Linked DNA regions of Homo sapiens. The protein of the gene in region 2 interacts with the protein of the main gene of each other region in a pairwise test. Each region holds a gene or a part of one and is shown on either strand. Other genes may lie near its edges.

What was found. Proteins that work in one complex are often made in the same cells at the same time.
Region 1: the proteins of THSD7B (region 2) and SLC14A1 interact in binary tests that used the Homo sapiens proteins (3 or more experiments, as listed by UniProt).
Region 3: the proteins of THSD7B (region 2) and SLC30A8 interact in binary tests that used the Homo sapiens proteins (3 or more experiments, as listed by UniProt).

What each region holds. Positions count from the first base shown.
Region 1 is NC_000018.10:45,720,067-45,727,365, forward strand, and holds the start of SLC14A1 (urea transporter 1), read left to right. Parts: upstream 1-4,114; 5' UTR 4,115-4,207; intron 4,208-4,883; 5' UTR 4,884-4,947; intron 4,948-6,886; exon of another isoform or gene 6,887-7,205; coding exon of another isoform or gene 7,206-7,299. UniProt on the Homo sapiens protein: Mediates the transport of urea driven by a concentration gradient across the cell membrane of erythrocytes.
Region 2 is NC_000002.12:136,760,518-136,769,006, reverse strand, and holds the start of THSD7B (thrombospondin type-1 domain-containing protein 7B precursor), read right to left. Parts: upstream 3,463-8,489; 5' UTR 3,320-3,462; intron 1-3,319.
Region 3 is NC_000008.11:117,165,681-117,173,179, reverse strand, and holds part of SLC30A8 (proton-coupled zinc antiporter SLC30A8), read right to left. Parts: intron 2,147-7,499; coding exon 2,012-2,146; intron 645-2,011; coding exon 499-644; 3' UTR 1-498. UniProt on the Homo sapiens protein: Proton-coupled zinc ion antiporter mediating the entry of zinc into the lumen of pancreatic beta cell secretory granules, thereby regulating insulin secretion.

The DNA.
Region 1 (7,299 bases), on a different chromosome or scaffold from region 2:
TTGAACCCAGGAGGTGGAGGTTGCGGTGAGCTGAGATCACACCACTGCACTCCAGCCTGGGCAAAAGAGCAAGACTCTGTCTAAAAAAAAAAGAAGAAGAAGAAGAAAAAGAAACAAAAGCTGGCTTCTCGGTGTTCAAAAAAAATAAAAATGAAAATTTTTAAAAGCTCAAGGTATTGCTAGACAATATGGCTCCTTGCACAGACACACTAGCACCCCTTTTCTCAAGACATTTTAGTACCATCTTCAAGAACTTTGTTGCAATAAACACACAAATTTCTAGGACATTAATAGTGACCCCCTTAGACGTGGTGCATTTGTGCAGTGCACAACCTGCACACCCTTACGCATTGGCCCATGACACCAGAGACTACATTATGAGCCTTACACTGGTCTGATTTTAATTTAAAAGCTGGAAAGGTGACAGATGGGCATCTGATGAAAGTTGTAGGTAGGGATGGAGATTACATGAACCCTCTGCTTTGTGCAGGAGGAACATCATCTCTGGATGCTCCCAGCTATTGATCCCCGTTTACTCCTAAAATGGATGGAATAATTTCAGGACTGCATTTAAGGGGAGCTAAAAACTTAGGGACCTCAGTGCCTCCTTTCATCACCCGTCATTGTGTTCCCCCAGCAAGGGCAGGCAGTGGAGGTTTGAGTGAGACTTTTGCACTCTCTGCGCTGCCTTGATCCTTGGCTTCACTCTAGGGAATGCCTACATCAAAGGGTCCCCTCCAAGTGTCGTTCTGGGAGTTTTGGCTCTCGTCTGGTACCTTTTTATCTGACTGTTTACCAAACCAAAGAACTCAGTAGGCTCAGAACTCACTGCAAAGGAACATTCTGTTCCAGACTTGCAGTCCTTGCCACTCTCTTCGTGGGGGGGTGAGGGGACAGAAAAGCATGAGAATGTCTTGTAGAAGTCCTCAGTGAGGGCACTGCCCAATTACATAATCTTGAGGTGCCAATTATTTATAACATTAAACTGCCTATGCGTAGATCAATATCAAGCAGCAATCAAATGAAACAGTGTTATAATTTCTGATTAAAACAACACAAATTTAGAAATACCAACAAATGCAAGGTATTGTAGAAAAAATATGAAAATTGTGTTTTATCCATAGTTGCATTCTCCTTTCTCCATTTTGTCACCTAGTTCTTATGTCCTCTTACGTATATTTGATGAACTGCCTCAAAATCTTTCTGGAAAGAGAGGTCCATTAGGAATGGAGAGAGCTATTGGATCCTGACTTCATCATCCGGTACCTTCCGGCCCAGATGGGACTGTGCATCGTAAGATATATTCTAAAAAATAAGACAGTACCAGAACTGTTGCAGAGCTAGGCGGCATGATTTCATGGCCAGTGAGGAATAGAGATGTAAACTGCTTTAAGTGCACAGAAGCCCACTGCGAAATCCAAATAGATTTGGGCAGAGTATGAGGAGGGGGAGGAGAGAGAAAACATTCTAGGGGCAGAAACTCCAAGAAGAAAGTCGAAGAGGAGAGCAGCTTTATGTAGGTTCATTTGTGATTGTTCCAGGCAGAGAGATGGAAGGTGCATTCACTTGGTATGGGAACAGAGAGGGGCACCCAAAGAGGAGATGCAAGGGAAAGACCAAGGAAAGGCAATGTTAGGGCATACTCAGCAAATGACTCTCTGGAAATAATAAAGGAGCTACTGTAGAAAGAACAGAGAAAAGTTCATTGTATTGTGCAATTAGGCTGTTAAAAGCACCGAGAACACATGTATGCACGCAATGAGTGCCCAGTTGTCTACAGCAACAGGGTGGCAGCGGACCCTGGCATCTCAGAATCCTGCAGTATGAGAATTTGGCAAGCCCTGCATCAGAAAGCTACCTAGTTCACAGTTCTTGAATGAAGCAAATGGTTTCCTCTGTACTCATAACTGCACCCCTTCTGATGTCAAAGCAGGGAGAAGTTTGTCCCCTTATTCAAGCCAGGAGGAAGGTTCCATTTGGAAACCCCCAAGGTAAACCAGTGCTGATTGAGAGGGGCTGACATCAGAATGGGGGCACCTCTACATGTTCGGCACGGTGCTTTGAAGATGTCATCCCTCATCACAACTTTATAAAGGAAGAAAAGTTACCCCACTTTACACTGAGGAATCTGAGGCTCAGAAACTGTGAGTAACATGCCTAAGGTCATACAGCTTGTCAGAGAAAAGCTAGTATTCAAACTCAGGTTTATCTGACTTGGAATTCCATGTGCCTTGTGCTGCCTTGTGCATACAATATGGCAAGGCTGTAATTTGTGGCCCCCCACTTAAGGTGTGGCTTTACAGGGACCAGGAGAAAGGCCAGGGAGGGAGGGTGGGTACAGAAAGAGGTGGTTTTTCCAAGGAGGTCTGAGATTCACTACACACCTTCAGCCCTGACCAGTGCGACTGAGGCAGAAGGCTCCATGGGTGTCATGTGGAGGCAGCTTCAGGATGAGGTCCATAAATATGCATCATGGCCAAGTTGAGTGAAGGAATTAATGAAAAGCAAACATACAGGCAGAAGTTGGAAATATTGGACAGCACTGGAGTGGCTAAAAGTACAAACTTTGAGTCAGACTTTGAGCAAGTTATTTAAACTCTGAGCCTCAGATTGCTCATCTACAAAATGGGGACAATAGTATAATATAGGAATTTTGCAAATGCTCTACCATTTGTGGCAGTTATTATTCTCATTACCATCATTAGCATGATTATTTCTATCAGGGACAGTGGTCCATTTGCATAAGGAAGTCATGGAGACACTAGTATGATTCCTTTCATTCCCAAAGCAGGCCACTCACACTGTCTCCTGAAGATTCATTTTTCTCCTTCAGGGAAACCCGAGGAGCTTATTTTCTCCTTATTTTACCAGGGAAAAAATGTTGGAAGGAGATTTGCCTGAACCTGGAAACTCTTATTATGAACCTAGACCTATACACACCCTACCTCAGCTGCTCGGGAGGCACTTGGAGGAAGGATGTCCCAAGCCGGCAAGAACCCTGTGGTCTGGCGGGTGTCCAGCGGGTGGAGCCAGAGAGCTCCCAGCCATGGGCCACCTAGCTGAAGGCTGATAAGTACTATCTGCACATCCAAGCAGGCAGGAGACCCAGATAAAAGACCTATGACATCTGCATGGCTGGCTGTGGGATTACATATATATATTATATATATATTTAAAAGTATATGTATATATGTATATATATTACATATATACACACATATATATCTACACATATGTAATATATGTATATATGTATATTTATTATATGTATATATCTACATATATACATGTATGTATGTAATATAGATGTATATATGTTACATATATACACACATATACATATATACACATATATTTTTTTAAAATTCTGCACTCATAAAAGTAGATTTGAGTTAGATTTTTGCCATAACAGAACAAGCCACAAAATTGAAATTTAAAAAGAAGGGGGAAGGAGGAGATATTTTAATTCAGTTTTAGATTTCCCTGCTATAGAATGTTTGCTTCCTGACTTTTAAAGAGGCAGCAGAGTATGTCCAAGAATTCTCACCTGGGAAGACAGACATTCCAGGGAAACACTGATATTTTTGTTTTCTCCTCACTGGGAAAAAGGCAGCTGGCCTTCAGAAAACAACTTGCATGTACCTTATCTTCCCCACCCTCCCAACAGCCCCTCAGGCCCTTGCTGGAGTCTTACATCTGTGTAGAAGTTGTGCCAAGTCTAAGAAAATTTCACCCCAGGAGCAGTCGCTTAGCTTCCGAGTCCACACAGCAGCAACCTGCCCCATGGTTTTTAGTTTGACACCGTGTTGATCCTTTTCAGTTGTAAATCTTTCCAAAAATATGAGTAGGGGCCAGAGGAAACAGGAGAAGAAAAAGATGCATTTTGGTAGGATTATTGCTGGTCAAAGACCTTGGAATGCTGTGGAAACTGTGGCAAAGCAGTTGGTACTCTGTCAAGAACAGAGAGAGAGACATCGGGTACTGAAGCCAGGGGACCAGTTCCTTGGTGTTGCTTTGGCATTGATGCCTGAAGTGGGAGGAGAAAGCCGAGCCCACAAACACACAGAGCAGAGTGGGGCTCTGAGTATATAACTGTTAGGTGCCTCCCTCCAGCACCATCTCCTGAGAAGCACTCTCCCTTGTCGTGGAGGTGGGCAAATCTTTATCAGCCACTGCCTTCTGCTGCCAGGAAGCCAGCTAGAGTGGTGTAAGTACTCATCCTTATTTCTATTCATTTCCAACTATTCATCATTTGGGGCTTGTCTTCACAGTTCTAAGTTTTGCTCTTTTTCTTAATGAAGAAAATGTTTTATATCACCGGAATTGATCAGAAGTAGCAAAATCAGAGTTCTGGTAGACTAGAAAGCAATTTACCAAAGCCACAGGCTTCTTCCTGGAAGCTCAAAGGCATGCCTTTATTCGTGATTTCTGAAGCAAGGTGCATGCAGCACCTGAGCTGATGTGGAAGAGGGTTTGCAGGGAGGTGTCCACCCAATGTGCTCAATGATTCTGGGTTAATCAACACTATTAGGAGTTTCAGGTTGTGTTCTTGAAATAATAATTTGGGCTGTGTTCTTGAAATAAGTTCGAGGCGAGTGTCTACAAGACTCAAAAGAAAAAAGTGGGCCACTGGGAATGGCCCTTTCCAGTGATGGATTTATGGACTCCTCTGTGTGTGCTGTCATGCTGAAGGGAATGTTCTTGTGCACCCATCGGGAGAACAAGTCAGTCACAACTGAAGCCACGAATTTGGCAGCTTCCTTGCAGCTGCACTCTCTGGAGTCTGGAATCAAGACTTCTGGGAGTAGTGTTTTCCAAGGAGGGAAGTGTTTTAACCAGGACACAGGAATATCTGACAGCATTTTCTTTGTTTCCAATTACAGCTTTAAAGAAAACTGGGCATCTCCTGCTACTTAAAATCAAAAACTACCTAAAATAAAGATTATAGTAAGTACCAAATAAGTGTCAATGCTGAAAGTCTCTTTATTATGCTAGACCATGAGTGTTTAAATGCTTTCTTCTATATCCATATCCAACACTTCATATTATTTTTAAAAGTAATAGCTGAAGCATGGAAAATTGAAGACTTCAGGTCTCTCCAATTGCACAAATTTCTAATACATGCTGGCAATAGAATATATTTTATTTCGTGTAATAAAATAGAGGATATTAGTTGACCTGAAATCTTGATATTGCCTTGTATTAAAATGCTAAGCACTGCTTCATTTTACTAGTGATCTGGGGTATGAAAAGTGCTTTTTGACTTCTGCTGGAAAGCTCTTCAGGTGCAGCTTCCAGGATATTCTTGGGATGTTAACTTCAGCACACATAAGCCTTGCTGTAGATGTGTCAGCTTTGAGGCACAGGGAGACATTTGTTTGTCAGAGAGTAACTGCTTCTGGCAAGGGCATAGGGTGAAACTGGGGATAGCAGAGCTCTTTCTTTGTGGTTGTTCAACCCCCACCCCAAGATTAGTTCAAAGTGACCGTGAAGATAGTCTGTGCCCACCGCATCGCTAAGTCCTAGCCCTCTCTGCATACTCCAGCACACAGAAACTGCTGCTTCACTTGTTTGTTGACTTGAACCGAACCTTGGGTGGCATTAATGTGCCTGGCCCAAGACTGAAAAATTAAGAACCACCAGAGCTGACCTATTCCATAAGACCCAGTCTGCCTGCCACGTACTGAGTGAATCTGGATGATGCCCACTCTGATCCTTGGTTTTCTCTTCTATAAAATGAAGGCTTGAACTACGTGGTCTCTAAAATCCTACCTAGCTCTCAAATTTCTCTTGGTTCTAGGAAAATATTGATGTTGAGCTCAAGGAAGGGGTTCTCCAAGGTGTGTGATTTTGGTGGTAGAGGAAAGGCCGGTGCCAGGCAGGGGCAGAAGGAGACGCTGTCTACACTGAGAAAATGTGACAACCCCTGCTTGTCTCTTTTTTCATTCTTCATTGTTTCTTATTTCTTTGTTTTTAGCTTTATATAACATGAGAGCCCTACCACTGGGTTTCTTAACCATTTGTTCTTTATCAAATAAAAATATTCATAATGCAACATGCAGGCACATCAGTGTGGTACAGAACTAGCCAGCTAGTTTACTATAGGTAAATATACACACATGCATGCACACACACAATTTTTACCTGAGACATGTCAGAAGTGTTTCCTAAAATTGTGGATTTTTCTGAGTCATTCTGGTAAAGGGTAGGTTTTCAGGTTTTAGGCCAAGCCAGAAGAAGAAAGTAAAAACAGAATAAACAACAGGGGGAGAAAAAGAGAAATACCACACACACAACTGGAACTTCTGGTAAAAGAGTGATATTCTTGGATGCAATGGAAGTTTTAAAAAGGAAAAAGAAAATTTATAAAAAGCTGCCACATTTGTGGAATTCAACTAAAAACTGTTTATTATTAACAAAGTGATGTTCAAAATTTAAGAGTTCTTGGCCTGGCATGATGACTTATGCCTGTAATCCCAGTGTTTTGGGAGGCTAAGGTGGGAGGATCACTTGAGGCCAGGAATTCAAAACCAGCCTGGACAATACAATGAGACTTTGTCTCTAAAAAAAAATAAAATAAATTAAAATAAACACAGCTGGATGTGGTGGCACAGGAAAAAAAAATACCATTTAGGAGTCTCTTAAAGGCAGCTTGTGAATGCTTACAAAGCGTGGCTAGTATCTTATTACAGAAAACAGAGCCCACATCATGCATCCTTCTTCTCACATTTCATAAACAAGGCCAAGGGAAACTGCTGTGGGGCAACCTGTTGCTTTGGTGTTGGTCCCCAAGATGCAGCCCTCACAATCTGCCCCCAAACGTGTCAGAACATGAACCCCCTCCTCCCCCTCTGGAAGAAGCAACCTCAGATCCAACAGCAGAGACACGCAGCAGAACAAAATCTGGGCATTGGTCCCTGTGTAGGATGGCTTCCCGTTATTTTTTTTTTAAGCAAAGTAAATGAACATCAAATTTCCATAGTCAGCTGCTGTCTTTCTGCCCACTGAGAGCTCTTTGGTGAAGGCAAAGTCCTCCTTCTTCATTAGCGGTCTCCCATGTGGGGCCACATCTTCCCTCACCAGGAACCCAGTGGGCGCGCTCCAGCCCCCCTCAGCTTGCCTTTTGCGTGGTCATTAGAGCTAGGGCACACGTCATGCTGATTCACATATTTTTGCCCTTTGTCATGTATTGAGAAAAAGTAAGGATGAATGGACGGTCTTTGATTGGCGGCGCTGGTGACGCCCGTCATGGTCCTGTTTGGAAGGACCCTTTTGGAACTAAAGCTGGTGACGCAGCGC
Region 2 (8,489 bases):
ACCCCACTAAAATTCACAATAGTAAATTTCTAGACTAGAAGTGGAGTTAAAAATCCCTCTACTTTCACAGGTTTAACGTGCTAATTATCACTTAGATATTAATCTTGTTAACAGCTCTAAATTAAGGACCTGTGTTATATTTAGGAAGCTGCCTGGTGTTAAAGTTAATGAAGCAGCTTCTTTTATAGTTATATACTGGGAAACATTTTCTTTTGAAAATATGAAGCACTTATGTGCAATCCATATTCAAAAATCCAACAGCATATCTAAGTAACTCATGTAGTTTTTGATAATACAATACCCAATAGTTATTCAAAGACCCAGCCTTTATGCTTTGTCTGTAGAGCATCTCTGAAGCCTTAATAGTGCTATTCTTTTTTTCCCATCAACTAATATAGTTGTCACTACTTAGAATTCTTTAATCTGTTTGTCTTAATCATGTATTTAATATATTGTATCATTTGTCATTTTCACAGTTAACTAAATAAGACCAGTCAAATATTCTTCATCATTCTATTCAAACTTTTGACATAATGTTATTACTTTAATGCCTAATCTTTGTAAAGTGTGCAGAACAGCAGAATTGAAGTTTTGGCAAGACTTTTTTTCTTTAAAGGAATCATACAACTCCAGTTTCAATTTGTGAAGTATAATTAAAGTGAGTTGACATGCTTTAGAATTGTTCTTGTTTGGACATTCTCCCTCCTTTAACTTAGAGCCTATCTTTTTATTCTGCTTTTTCGGTCTATCATTTAAGGACAACATTCTTTTTGCTGATATTAACAAAAGAGTTATTCCTTCAGAAATAGGATCTGTAGCAAGCAGACAAGGTCCTTCATAGCCCTTCTGATGAAGTACAATTTAGTACCATTTTCCTTTCATTCCTTCCCTACTTTCTCTCAAAAGGCACACTCAGCAGAGAACAGAAAGGTACCTCTCGTTACCAATTTGTTAATGTCAGTCTTCAAACAGTAGAGTCTGTATTTACATTGTTTATATGATCGGTAATTATTTTCTACCTGTCTAACAGTGTTCCTCTTTCTTAGCCTTTCAACTCTCTAACAATCAACAACTTTGATGGAAAACAATGGGCCAGAAGATTAAGAAATATTGTAAGATCATTTCTCAAGTATTGATTTAAATATTAAGGTTGACATAAAGTGAGCTCATCGTATTATGAACCCTCAAAACAGACTATCAAAGTCCACCAACAGTAGACAGCCCTTTCCTGGACCACGTATCTCCAAGCCCTTATCACAGATTAATCTAGAATATCCAAAACCCTGAATGGTTTGTAGGTGTTCAGGGCTGCTGGATCTGTCTGTGCTGATTTATACGAGACTATCCGATGTTTTTAAAGTCAACAATGACACCTACAATTTTTTCAGAAGTATCTGTGTATATTGTTACAGTGTCAGAAGAATTTTCTTCATAATTTTTTTCACTTAAATTTGCATGAAAAAGAGTTTCTAACCCTCAACTCTCAGCAGGTAGATGAAGAAAACACACACACACAAATACACACAACACACACACACACACACACACACTTCCCAGGGATAGAAAATAAAACAATTCCAGGGAATCTACCAGATTAGATCAACTACCCTCAGAAAACAGAGAACTGGCCACATTACTTTTCAAAAGAAGACTCCTATTATTAATGGCACTAAGGTTTAAAAACAGCAGTCTGTCAAAGTGAAGCCTCAAGACAGAAACTTTATAAACAGCTTTTAACCCACAAAGACACGAGCTTTCACTCACCACTGAGTAAGACTTCTTGATTTGGTTAGTAACACCCTAAGTGGCTTTCAGGAAGCCTTCACCAACTGCTGAGTAGACAGTCAAGAGCACAAAAAGGCTTCCCTGGAGATTACCTCCTCCTAGTTACTCGAGAAACTCAGATTGCCCTGACACTGCCAGACAAATAACTGTATCCCTTTGACATCCAAAGATTACCTGTCAAAAGGAAACTCCAAACACACACGTTCACACGCACGCGCATGTATACACACACACACAAACACACACACACCCCACCACAGTCTGGTTGGCATGAGCCCTACCTGCATGGGTTACCATTTCCATGATAACAGAGCACTCACAGGTGTACCGCTGAGAAACACCAGGCAGACCGTCATTTAAAGAGCTCCAAGGAGTCTGAGGGTGGGAAACTGCCGGCTTTCAGCAGACCACCCTGGCAATGAACAGAGCGCCAAGGAACCCTGGTATCTTCCGTAGAATATGCCACGGTCCCATAATCTTAGTGGAACTTCACCTTGACTGTACAGTATTGAATCGCAATACCTCTTATGGGAAGCTCTGAGCTCAGACATTCCAAAAGAAAAAAGTACCACCTTCGCCAACGAAAGTTTTTTTCTTGTCTTTAAAAAGGGATAGAGTGAGAGAGCTTAACGCCCCCTCCTCAACATTCCCTCGTCCCCTGCAAAGTTTTCCAACTTCAAAATACGCGGTCACCAAAGAGCGGGGTTCATTTGCTTATTCAAATAACTTTAATACTATGGGACATGTAAGACAGCAAAGGGGACAGGTGCAGATGGGCGATGCAGTAGAAAATATGCCTGTCCCCCCCTCCCTGCCCCTCACTCTCAAGCCCCGTTCCCAGTTTCCTCTCCACAAACAGCAGGATATCACGTCCGAGCCCAGCTTGCCCCTAGCCACTCGCAGGGACAGGGGAAATGTAAACTGTTGCTACAGCCTCCTGACACTCCACCGATAAATCAGAGGAAGCTGCAAAACTTCTTGGCTTGCTCAGCTATCCTCCACTGGCACTGAACGCCTATGCACAGATTTCGCAGTCAGCGCTACGGGAAAGGAAACCCTCAGTCAACCTGTTTGCAAAGCCTGCAGAACAACTCCCGGCCTTTCGATTTTGGGCGCCGAGGCTCTCCGCGCAGGACGGGAAACCCCCGGTTTCCTTCATCAGTATCCCTCAAACCAAGCTGGAGGTGAAGGGAACAGAGCTCCTGCTGCCCGGGTCCCAAGGTTCGGTCCCGTTGCATGAGGTCGGTGCTCAGGTCGCCGCGTGGGGCGTCCCCGCCCGCCTAGAGGGTCTCCGCACACTGCGCCCCGGGCAGCCCACGCTTCCCGCAGCCCCAAGCCAGAGGCGTCCGAGAAGATCCGCTTCCAAGTTCCCGCGTCTGGCTGGGAGAAGGGGCGACGATGGCTGTCCGGCGAGGAAAGAGCAAAGTCTGCGCCGGCAGCGCGCCCCCTTCCCCGGCGCTGCCACCCCGCGCCCCAGTCGGCCGGCCAGGGGGCCCGGCATCCCCGACTCGGGGCTCCGCGTGCTTGCACTCACCCGTCTCGCCAGAGCCGCCGCCGTAACCTCTGGGAGCCGCTGAGCCCCGAGCTTCCCGAGCGCAAGAAAGATGGTGGTGTGTGTCGGAAGACCACCCATTCCAGCGTCTGGCAACCCGGCGGCGACTCTGGCTCCTCAGCACTGAAGGAGGAGGAGGAGGAAGAGAAGGAGGAGGAGGAAGAGAAGGAGGAGGAGGAGGAGGAGGAAGGAACGGCGCAGTCAGACGCCATCTGCTGTACACCTCTGCGCAGCCATTGGCTGCCTGGTGCGTCCGAGAGCCGCGGGGCGCGGGGCCGCGGGGAGCCACCTTGCGCCTCGCCTACCCCGGCAGCTGTTCCCCACCGCCCCCTCTTTCTCCCCCCTCTCCTCCGCCTCCTACCGCCTCTGCCGCGCACCCGCACGACCCTCGGCTCAGCCTGCTCCCCAAGGCGAGCGACCGCGGGCGCGCTGGCCTGGACCTCAGTTCCTCTGCTCCCCGCAACTGTTTGCCGCAACTTTGAAGCTTCGGGGTGCCGGTGCGGGCTGGGTAAGGGGACTCCCCAGCTGAGCTCAGCCCGGAGTACCCAAGCCACTGAGCCCAGGAGAGGGTCGAGCGCTTTGCGCCTCGGAGGTCCATGAAGTGATGGGGGAAGAGAGCAAGAAAGAGTGGGGGTGCCCTAGGCCCCTGTTGATAACGCGCCCCAACACGCACACATGCGCGACACTCCGACACACAGTAAAACACACACACCGAGCCATCCCGCAAGGTCCGGATGGTCTGGCGTTCCTCTGCAGTCCCCGGGCACGAGAGGGCTTCGGTGTTACTAGGAGAAAAGACAAAGAAAATCCTATCTGGGGAGTACCCCTAGCAGCATACGTGGGGGAGAGAGAAAGGGAAACATTGTGGTGACTCCGGGAAACGCCGGGAGCTGGGTGCATACCTGCCTGGACATCCCCCCTGTTGCGGGGCTCCCAGCGACTGTCAGCCCACGCCCACCAGAGCCTGGGAAAACCCCTAGCTCTGGGGCCTCTGTTTAAAGGATTTGCAGTCCCGGGGCGCGGGGACCGGAGTTGCGGGAAGGAGCGCCTTAGGCTCCTGGGTAGCTCATGCCGGAAGCAGCAAAGGAGGTGGAGAGTCCGAGTCAGCCCAGGTGAGGCAGGAGTGCAGACAGCGGAGAGCACGTGGGCAGTCGAGGAGCAGAGTCACAGCTCAGAAAGTCGTTTGCTTACTCTCTGACACTTGTTCCAAACCCTTCTGGTTTTTGACACCTTTGATCTAGGGAACTTCTTAAGCTTGTTCAGAGAGATGAAGTTGCTTCAAAAGGGAGAAGGGGCGGGGGGAAGCATGAGGACTACCTATTGCCAATTACAGGATATTTTGCCTGTCAAATCTCTTTAAATGTGTGAGCCCAGCGACAGCAGGGATTGTATCTTTTCTATTTTATCCAATGCCTGGCACACCATGGGTGCTTAAAATGAAGCAAAATAATAATGATAAAATTAAAGCTTGATGTCATAGAGCAAATTAGATTCAAGAGATAAATAGAGAAGCTAGGATCTGTCACAGATAAAAAGAAATCAAAAGAATGTAAGTGCCATTGTAAAGAAAGATGTGAATATATTGGTAAGGGGCTTCAACTCAGCTTGCTGTGGGATGATGGGTTCTGAAAGCAGGGAAGCCTTACTTAATATTTTAAACAGCAATCGCTATTCTCCCACTACAGTCACATTCTGGGTTATGCTTTTTTTTTTTCCTGACATCACTGTCTTAAAAATAAATCAGCTGCCAACCAGATCCCAGAATATTTTCTTAAATCCAAGACCATGATTTATTACTCTCAAGAGATAAAAGGCCAATCCTGTGACCCAGGGGAGAGAGAAACTGGTCCATTATGTTTTATTGTAATCTCAATATATACAGATCAATAGCCAATGAGTCTCATTTAAGTAACTTCAGGAACAACAGCCAAAGAAAAACATTTCTGTTTTCTTGAACTATTATACCCAGGCTTCCCAGGTTTCAGTTTTCCCAGAATCAATGCTGCATTTTCAGGCCACACCCCCTGCACACACACCCCCATATGGGAGAAAGACTTGTGTTTGCAATCTGTCTGGAAAAAAAGATATCAAGGATGACTTCTGAGTATGGCATGTATGGACATCTTAGTAGTTATTTGTCCCCCTCCCTCACCAGAGACAATGATACGTATATTTTCCTTTAGGCTGGCAATTTGCTTTCAACGTGCATTCTGATTTAATATGCCAGCCCATTCTCATTAACCCTTTGCTCTACGTCAGCAATCACTTACGATACCCAAGAATACTTTGATTCTTAAGACACAACTTTTCTCCTCTGAGGCATTGTTTGTGTTTGGTCTCCTGGTTTTTGAATCTAGGATATGAGATTATAGTCATATGGTAATTCTGTTGGGCTTCTTAAAATAAAAAAGGAGAATGAAATCTAAATTATTTTTGAAAAATAAAGAACCATGAATGTTAAACTTGTTACATTTGATTCCTTTAGAGAACAATCACTTTTCATTAAGGCACTGCTGACAACATATATTTCAGTATAGTCAAAGAGTATAAGATGTCTGAACTTTATCTGTGTGATTACATACAAATTTTGTAGACGGAGAATGCAAGCACAAGACTCATTCTAACTTTCTCTTTCCATTTCTAGCTCAAATTCCCAATTTATATTTTAAATGTATATTTTACTCATAATATGAGTTTCTTGCCAACATAGTTAGCTTTGGTTCTTAATAAAAACACTGCTCTCAAAATCTAGATTAGGTTAGAAACATTAAAAGGATAACCTAGGCAGGGAAAGGAATATTAGTAATGAAGACCGTAAGAGCAGGAACAGAAATTTTTAAAAATAAGTGAACAAAGAAAGGATTTGGAAGAAGGTAGGCTTGATTAAAAAAAAACAAAGGTGGCATCATTATGTGTAAGAAATAGTTGAATGTGCCAGGGTTGGAAAATAAGCTTGAGATTAGAAATTCCCATAATCCTGCACACACAGATGCCAAAGGCCCCAATCACCACCAGACTTCCAATGAGAATGAACAAAACAAAAATACAATGGCAGAAGAGAGGGGATAGAAGGAGAAAGTCTGTTGAGATTAGGTCTCCATTGGGAAGACCTAATGAGTCTTCCCATTAAGGAATCACGGAGAAAAGTAACCCTATGCTAGCCAAGTACAGGCAGAGTGTAAATTTACATTTTTGTTGTTGTCGTGTGTGTTTGCCACTGCTTTTTCTGAACATGATGTTCTCCATATAGTCTAACAAGCTTGGATGGGAAAGTGCTATGGAAATGAAATAAACAATCAGTGGCATTAAACAAGGAAGAGCTAAAGAAGGCACATAGATAAAGAAGCCCAATCTAAAACACAAGTGATAAATGCAAACATAAGCCAGTATCTTGGACTTGCCACCCAGGGAGTTGCTGCCCAGGTCTACAATGGCCCATCCACTGAAGCAGCGAATTGAGTCAAATATTCAGTCACTCTGGGGGACAAAATAGGAGGAAAGGGGGAAGAGAAAAAGAACCATGATTGTCTCATTTACACAATTCATTCAGGCCAGTTCCAGGTTGGAAGAGATTCTGTGGCAAATCTGAACATTTTTTCTGCCAAAAAAGAACATTTAATCCTGGCATATAAATGTAACTTTTGAGCTTGGTCCAGTAATTTGATTTTGATGTGTCAACATCTTAAAATACAATGTAAAGATAATGTATTGAAAAGTAGTGTAGTGGAACTCCACTGGCTTCTGGCCCAGTTCAGTCCCTCTGAGGCACCAATGCTTTCCCAGCAGACGCTCAACACTCACAAACGAAGTCCTGAACCATCAGCTTCAGTCATTCACTCAGCAACATATTTGATTAGTGTCTACTATGTGCCTGGCACTGCACTAGGTATTGGTTATTCAGTGATACAGAGTCCCTGCCCTCATGGCATTTATAGTCTAATGCAGTGACAATAAACAGGTATGCAAATGATCCTAAATATATAATATGAAAGAAAAGGAAAAGAGTCCTGCAATAAAAAAGGAATGCAATGGAGCAGGGGTAGAAAGGAAGGTCAGAACCAGGCAAGAGCTCTCAGAGGAAATGACATTTAGGCTGAGACCCAATCATGAATGAGAGGTAACATTTATGAAGATTTTTCTAGATATTAGGCAACAGGCTAAATGTTATATATATATATATATAATTTAATCCTCATAACTACCCCAAGATGTGGACACTATTTTCAACTCCATTTTACAGTGGAGGCATACAGAGTTTACGCAACTTATTCAAAGTCACACAGCTGATAAGTAGAAAAGCTAGGATTTGGCCAGGCAGTCTGGCACTAGTGTGTGCATTTTTAATCACCAAGATACACTGCATCTCATATAAGCAGGCATCAGCCAAGAAAGGGGAAGAAGAAGGATACATGGCCAAAGAGCCTATGGCTGGAAGAGGTTGGCACATGAAGAACCCATCGGGGGCCAAGGTAGCCGGAGATGAGTAAGCCTGGAAAAACTGCAGTGCAGTGGGATAGGAAAGGCAGGCAGGGGCAGAGGGGCAGGTGCTTGTGACCAATGGGTGGTTTTATCTCTTTGAACAATATCATCTAATTTAGACTTTAAAAAGATCACTTGATGCTGTGCCGCAACCAAGAAAATGGCAAGAGTGTAACAGGGATGCCAGTGTCCAGGGAAGAGATGGAAGTGGCTTAATGGAGAGAGAACCAGATGGTTTGATGAATATTTGGAAGGATCTTGGCTCTGTCTTCTTGTCATATAGCAGCATTGTGGAGAGGCTGGACAGTGATCAGCCCCATCCAGTCAGTTCTGGGACCCTTGCTTCTGATCCCTGTCCTAGAAGTCTGTACCACCCACTCTAATGCCCAGCATTATCTGGGTTCATTGTTTTGCTGCTCATCTCCAATAATATTGACTGACCAAGAGATCTATAGTACAATGATCCCTTCTTCCCCACTGCTATCTAACGTTACCAAACCAGAGCAAAGAAAGGAGAAGCAGTCATTCAATCCACACTAAACAAGCCGGCAACCTCCATATATCTAAGACACAACACCGACTAATGTGGAAATAATAAAACCCCTGGAGTGACAACTTGGATCACATTCATAATGACTTGGTTTGTAAAGACCAGGTGTTATGTAGATTGGAG
Region 3 (7,499 bases), on a different chromosome or scaffold from region 2:
ACAGCTTGGTGAGAGAACCAAGTTCTAATGTGGCGTTAGCATACAGAGTCACTTTTATTCCTGACTTGGCTCTCCTTATTTTTTGTTTCTAATGTTTTGGTAAAATTTTGTGACTATTTGTCCCTTCCACTGATTTCTAGTAAGACTTTCCTGAGTTCAAATTTACCTATGTGTTCTCAAGATGCATTATTGGAAGGGAGATGAATTTGGTATTGCCGATAGTTACAAACAGCTGTTACTTCGGCTCCACTCAGGAATAATCTATATACACATTCCTGCAATTGAACACAGCTACTGATCAGTATATAATCCAATTGATTGATGGATCTCAGTGCCTCTTCCTTCATGGTGAATGGAACTAAATAAATAGATAAAATGTGCATTGCACCATGACATGAATTTCTTCCTTTGGTTCCTTATTTTCTATGATGCAGAAACTGCATAGCAGCATGTTTGAAGGTGGCCTGTCAAATTTGGGAAACTGACGGTGTGACTGAGCTAGTCACAGGGGTCTTCACAGAAAAGGCAGTCGGGGTCCTGGTCAACTGGAGATTCCATCTGAATGGTGAGTGAGTGCATCGTAAAGCTTTTGCTAAGGGCTTTAGCAATTTCTCTCCGAACCACTTGGCTGTCCCGGCTGGCTGCTGTTGATAAAGAAGCACAGGGAGATTAGCACTGATTGCACACGCATGGGCGACTGCTCTGACTCCAACTTCAAGTACTTTGTCTTTGACCTGCTGGGGTGGGGCAGAGGCAGGGCACTCAGAGGAAGCCACGTTTGCTCTGATAATCAGCTACATTCACACAGACAAGGCAGGGGAAACTCTAGTGCAGCAAAGTGCCCTGTCGCTATGGGAACTCTTTCTGTCCACTGTTATCTCTGGAGTCTGGCATTCCTAGGAGCTTACTATGGAAGGGGAGACAAGCCCTGGAAAAAGCCAAGACAGAACTATTATTTCTTATACAGCCCTGCTCACCAGCTCCCAGGGATCTCTGGGTTGCAGGCTTTGTATGTAATCAGAATTTATATCAAGGATAGTGACAGGAACCAGGAAGCGTTTAGAGCTCCCCACAGACCTTTCTTAGAGCAGCAACCCTCACTGCCATTTTTTTCCTGTCCCAAATGCTATCAGCAGGCTGTAAAGTCTCCTCCATAGCAACCTGAGTGTTTACTAGATTCTTCCATTTGCAGTGAAATATTGGCATAGTGAATGCTGTAAATTCCCTCAAGTCAGACCTAAGCCCCTTCGAGAAGATGACGATGTCTGAGAAAGCACAGTTTTCAAATGACTGTCACTAGTGTTCCTGTCCCCTGCCCCTAAGTAACTCCTTGAGTCATTTTTTAGCAGCCTAATGTGTTATCCTTGGCCTGAGCTTTCTCTTGAGGCAGTAAATGCCCTCCCACTGCCTATCCTCCCAGCTCTAGGACATATCAGAGACAAAATTAACTTCTTGAAAAAGTAATTTTAGTATAAACCTAGTATTATAAGAATTTTCTCACATGGCTACAGAATTTCTAATCATACAGTGTGGGACCCCACCATAATTCCTATTAGCACATCCATTAGCTTGTTAGAAATTTAAGAGTGGGGCTGGTGTCTCTTTCATCTTCCTATTTTCAGTGCCAGGAAAAACATCTTATACATAGGAGATACTCAATTAAGATTAAGTTTTTAATTCATTCCTATTATTTGACTGATAGGGCACCAAGCCAAACAGATGAAGTTGAATATTCAGAGTCCAAGGCCTTGAAGTGGCGGGTGCATTTTAGTCCTTTGTTCTGTCTGTCCTCAGCCCTCTGCAGTCAGCCCCAAGAATGTCGTGGGTATCATTGTTGCTATGACAACATCAATAAGTGGGCTGGTTTCAAAGGCCCTTGGTAATAGAAAACACTTTATAATGTTTTGACAAGCAACAGACAATAAGGGCAGCTCTACAAAAAGAAGGGAAATTACTGACTTTACAGGACAAGGACTGAATTTTTTCCAGGGTGTTTACAAAACTCACTGACCTGTAGCAACATGAGCTGAGAGAATTACTTGATTCATTGTTAGAGACCAGATGTGCAGGCTGTGCACAGACAGCACCCCGTCGACTGCTAAAATAAGCTCTTTCACACCACTGTAATTCAGGCTCTTTGGCACACCTGACAAAAGGGAAGAGATGGAGGCTGTAGTTATTCAACTAGATACAGCTCATTGAATTACCTAAACAAGCTGCAAAGTCCTCACCAAAATTTCAATGTGTTCATCCCTTTGCTGGTTTCTTACTTCAAATGTTTACAAATAAGATTTACCTGACTACTTCAAGGTTTACCATCAATCAAAATTTCCCACTCAGAATACTTGCAGAATTTACTATGCAATAACCAACAATGGTAATTATCCTTAGTTTTTATGGTATACTATTAAACTAACTGTGCCTTTTCCAACTATCTTTATATACACTCTGGAAAGTAAAATGAAATAACATGAAATTTGGTATCAAATAATCATGGGTTAGCATCCTGACGACAACTATTGTGAATTTACCCAAATCCCAGAACTTCTCTGACCCTCAGCACATTTGTAGTAAAATAAGGGTGTTAAGAACAACACATAGATCACAGAGATCTTTGAGGAGCAATTCAGAAAATATCTAATCATTATGAACAGCAATGTTGTACAAAGATTAGTTACTCAACAGGTCATTTAGTGAACTGTGCTAATAGAGGATCCTAACATTGTATAATACCATCTTATTCGGTTTGTAAGTTTTCTATTATTTTAGCTACATTGGAGGATGCTGTAGAAGAGATGTCTAAGTACAGCCCTTTTTTAGCCTCTACTTCAGTTATGTACAAACAACACAAACACCTGGGGTGTTTATTAAAAATAAATGTACCACGACTCCATTCCAGACCTAAAAGGAAATTTCTATGGATGAAGCTCCAAAATCTAGAGTCTTTCAGAGTGGTTTTCAACCTTGGATGCACATTAGTATTACCAGAGGAGATTTTAGAAATCCTGATGACTAAGTTACACCCAAGACCAATTAAATCAGAATCTCTGTGGATAAGGCCCAACATCAATGCTCATTTGGTGATTCTATCAGGCAGCCAAGATTGAGAACCACTGCACCAACATTCATGAGCCACTGAGCAGCTCTGCTTTGCAGTGGTTCTCTAGTCTGACTACATGTTTTTAAAAATACCAAAGCCAGCCCCAACCCCAGACAATTAAATCAGAATCTCTGGGTGATATAGTTTGCATATTTATCCTTGCCAGTGTCTCATGTTGAATTGTAATCCCTAATGCTGGAAATGGGGCCTGGTGGGAGGTGTTTGGGTCATGGTGCCAGATCCCTCATGGCTTGGTGCTGTCTTTGCGATGATGAGTGAGTTCTTGCAAGATTTGGTCATTTAAAAGTGTGTAGCACCTCCCTTGCCCTTGCTCCATTCCCATCATGTGACGTGCCTTCTCCCCCTTTGCCTTTTGCCGCTATTGGAAGCTTCTTGAGGCCTCCCCAGAAGCAAATGCCACCATGCTTCCTGTACAGCCTGCAGAACCATGAGCCAATTAACCTTATTTTCTTTATAAATTATCCAGTCTCAGGTATTTCTTTATAGCAATGTGAGAACAGCCTAATAACACTGGGTATGGGAGGCCTGAGCATAAGCATTGTTTAAAAGCTTCCCAGAGGATTATAATGAACAGCTAGAACTGAGAAACATCTACTTAAAGAAATGGGGAACCCTTAACCCTCCTTTTGAAAAATTTAACCCATTTATGCCTGGGGTTGCAATTTTTTGAATTTTTGCAATCAGACCTTGGCAATGACCTTGAGCAGGATATAAATAACTCTCACATGCTTAGCATTCCAATAATGGAACACTCGGCAAAAAATGGGCTAAGAACCTTGCTCATGGGGGATTTCCTCCTTGGAGTTAACTCAAAATTCCCTACAGCATGAGCTGAGTTTTTGATCCTACCTCATATTGTTTGGGGAAGTAACAAAGAGCTGGTTATCATGCTATTTTACTCTATGAGTGGCAAAAGACCTAGGCTCCTAGAAGCAGATGAAAGGAGTTCTTGTCTCAAATTAGCCATACAATGTGAATAAAGTCATGGGTAAAATTGTCATAATAATAATAACAAACTTTTATTGAGGGCCCACTATGTGTAAAGTTTGTGCAAAGTACTTTATATATAGCAATTATCTCATTTAATAGTCCTAAAAACTTTAGAAGCTAGTTATTAAGGTTACAATTCTTATTTAACTAGAGAAGAGGAAATTGAGGTCAGTTAGATTAAGGAACATTGCTAAGGCCACACAGAGAAGTGGCAGAACCAGGGATATCAGATCCCAATGTCTGTGCTCTGAGTATAAAGTGTTACGCAAATACTAGAGTCTAGGAATTGCAATCAAAACACTGTCTGTTATGCCTAATGTGTGTCATCTCTTTGGGGAAGTTCTGTTGACCATTTGAAGACTTGCTATCATTCATCTAGGCCCTTTGAAATTAAGTCATGATCCCACTACCCTTTTTTCACTTGTCTCCTTCATCTCATTACTATTATAGAGAACATAGGTCCACCATGACTTATTTTATTATAACAAATAGTGTTGCCAGGCAAGAGGCATGGCCCCACTGGACTCAATGCTCCATCACATCCTAGAACTTTCTTTTACTTGGGGGGGAGTCTGAAAAAATATTAATGCATCCAGGAAAATATCTAAATTAGTGTTTAATAAATAACTTCCCAGACTTATAAATGTATTTGAAAAACCACTGATCATTCATAATTAAATAATTGCATTTGAAATCAATAAGATATAATATTTCACCTATTAGAGTAGAAAAGAATGAACAGTTAGTTTGATAATACTCAGTGGTTGTGATGATGTGAGGAAAGGGGCACTTTCATATGCTGTTGAGGGGAAAGAAATTGATACTGTATCTTTGGTAGAAATGGTAATATCTATCAAATTTTGAAATGCATGTGATATAGTTTGGCTGTGTCCCCACCCAAATCTCACCCAAATCTCACTTTTAATTGTAATGATCCCCACGTGTCAAGGGTGGGGGCCAGGTGAAGATAATTGAATCATGGGGGCAGTTCCCCCATACCGTTCTCCTGGTAGTGAATAAGTCTCACAGATCTGATGGTTTTACAAATGGGAGTTCTCCTGAAAAAGCTCTCTTGCCTGCTGCTATGTAAGGAGTGACTTTGCTCCTCCTTTGCCTTCTGCCATGATTGTGAGGCCTCCTCAGCCATGTGAAACGGTGAGTCCATTAAACCTCTTGTTCTTTATAATTACCCAGTCTCAGGTATGTCTTTATGAGCAGTGAAAAAACATACTAATAAAGCATGTAAGTTTTGAAACAGCAATATCACTTCTAGGAATTATTCCACAGATATACAAGTGCTAAAAATATATATGTACAAGGGTGGTAATTACATCATTGTTTATAGTAATTACATCATTGTTTATAATGTCAATCACAAGCAAGTACTTCCATGCTGTGGAGTAATTACAGCTGTGAAGAAGAATGGGGTATATCTATGTATGTGCTAATATAAAAGATCTCCAAATGAAAAATGCCAGGTGCAGAGAAAAAATGTGAATCAATATGTAATCCCATTTTTATAAAAAAAGGTACACACTTACATCACATACACATATACATATACATGTATGTATGTATATATATATATGCAAATGCACAAATATCTTTGGAAAGATAAATGTCAACTTATTAACAGGTATTATCCCTGAAGAATAGGACTGAGAAGTCAAAGACGGAATTATAAGGAGACTTTTTAAAATTATTTCATACTTTTCTGTATTATTTTTAAATTTTACTAAGTACTATACTAACATAGTTTGAAAACCTAATTTAAAAATTAAGTGTCTTCCAGAAAGGAGTTATCTGCCAGTTTCTATAACTAGCTGACGTAGTCCAGTCTCTGCACTTTTCCTGAAGTAAAATAAGAAAGATAATCACCAGGGAAGAGCTATAGCGAGACACACAAAGAAAAGCGGAATATAAGTCATTTCAAATTGTACACCAACTTGTCTTTTATCTTTCTTTAAGTCAATAACTTCCATAATAGCAACAACAGCTGCAGCTCAGCATTCGGCACTCAGGAAAGAAAATGGATGCTTCTGTGGCTTGACAAACCAAATATTCTCATGTTTAGAGACAGAAAATTCACTATTACTCTGTGACATTTGACTCCGTTATCCATTTCACTGTTGTCAACACTATTATCTTTCAACAATTATAGTGACCACCAAGAACAAACCTTTAAATGTATACTTAGCAGTGAACACTAACGAAGTGTGAGCTGTCACTGAAGGCAACTGCACTCTGAGACCAGATCTACCTTATGTCAAAATGTGCTGGACAAAAAAAAAAAAAAAAAAAATCAGCTAATGTCTGGATATTTCAATCATCTGGATGTTTGATATGATGCAAACTTCTAGCTCTCACTGAATTTTACAGGTGCCATTCCCAGGGCCAGCATGTGGGAATCCCTTCAGTGGTACTAAAAGATTAGTCCAGTGGTTCCTGAAGTGTTGTCCTGGGACCAGCAGCACCAGCATCTTGTTAGAAATTCAAATTCTTGCTCCTCCTACTCCCCAATAAGATATACTGACTCAAGAATTGTGGGAGTGGGCTCAGATATCTGTGTTTCAATAAACCCTCCACGTGATTCTGATGCCACTAAAGTTTGAGAACTGCTGGGTTAGTCTAATAAGGGTTTTAGGCAAGTCCTTCATAATACCTGTTTTCCTGGAATGTAAGATAGAAAATAATATCATTTGTTAACGACAAATGGCCAATGTAGCAATGATAAATCACCTTGTAAATATAATCAAGTACCTCAGGTCTCCAATAAACCTTATTTTTAAATTTTAAACAGTTTTAAATTGACATGATAATTGTACATATGTATGGGACATGCAGTGCTGTTGCCATACAGATAATTCATAGTGATCAGATGAGGGTAACTGACAAATTCATCATCTCATACATTTATTATTTCGTTGTATTGGGAATGTTCAATATCTTCCTTCTAGCTATTTGGAACTATATATTATTGTTAACTATATTCTTGTCATTCTGTAGTGCTATAGAACACTAGAGCTTATTCCTGCTATCTCATTGTAATTTTGCATCCTTTAACAACTCTCTCCCTATCCTACTCTTCCCCTTCCCTCCCTCTGCTATCTGTTCTACTTTTCACTTCTATGAGAACAATTTGTTTTTAGCTCCCACATATGAGCCAAAACATGTGGTGTTTAACTTTCATTTCCTGGCTGATTTTACTTAGCATAATGTCCTCCAGTTCCATCCATGTTTCTGCAAATAACAGGATTTCATTCTTTTTCATAGCTGAATAGTATTCCATTGTGTATATACACTGCATTTTCTTGATCCATTCATCTATTGTTGGACACCTAGGTTGCACTCCCACACTTTCCCTTTGATGCTCCAGTCAAATCTCCTC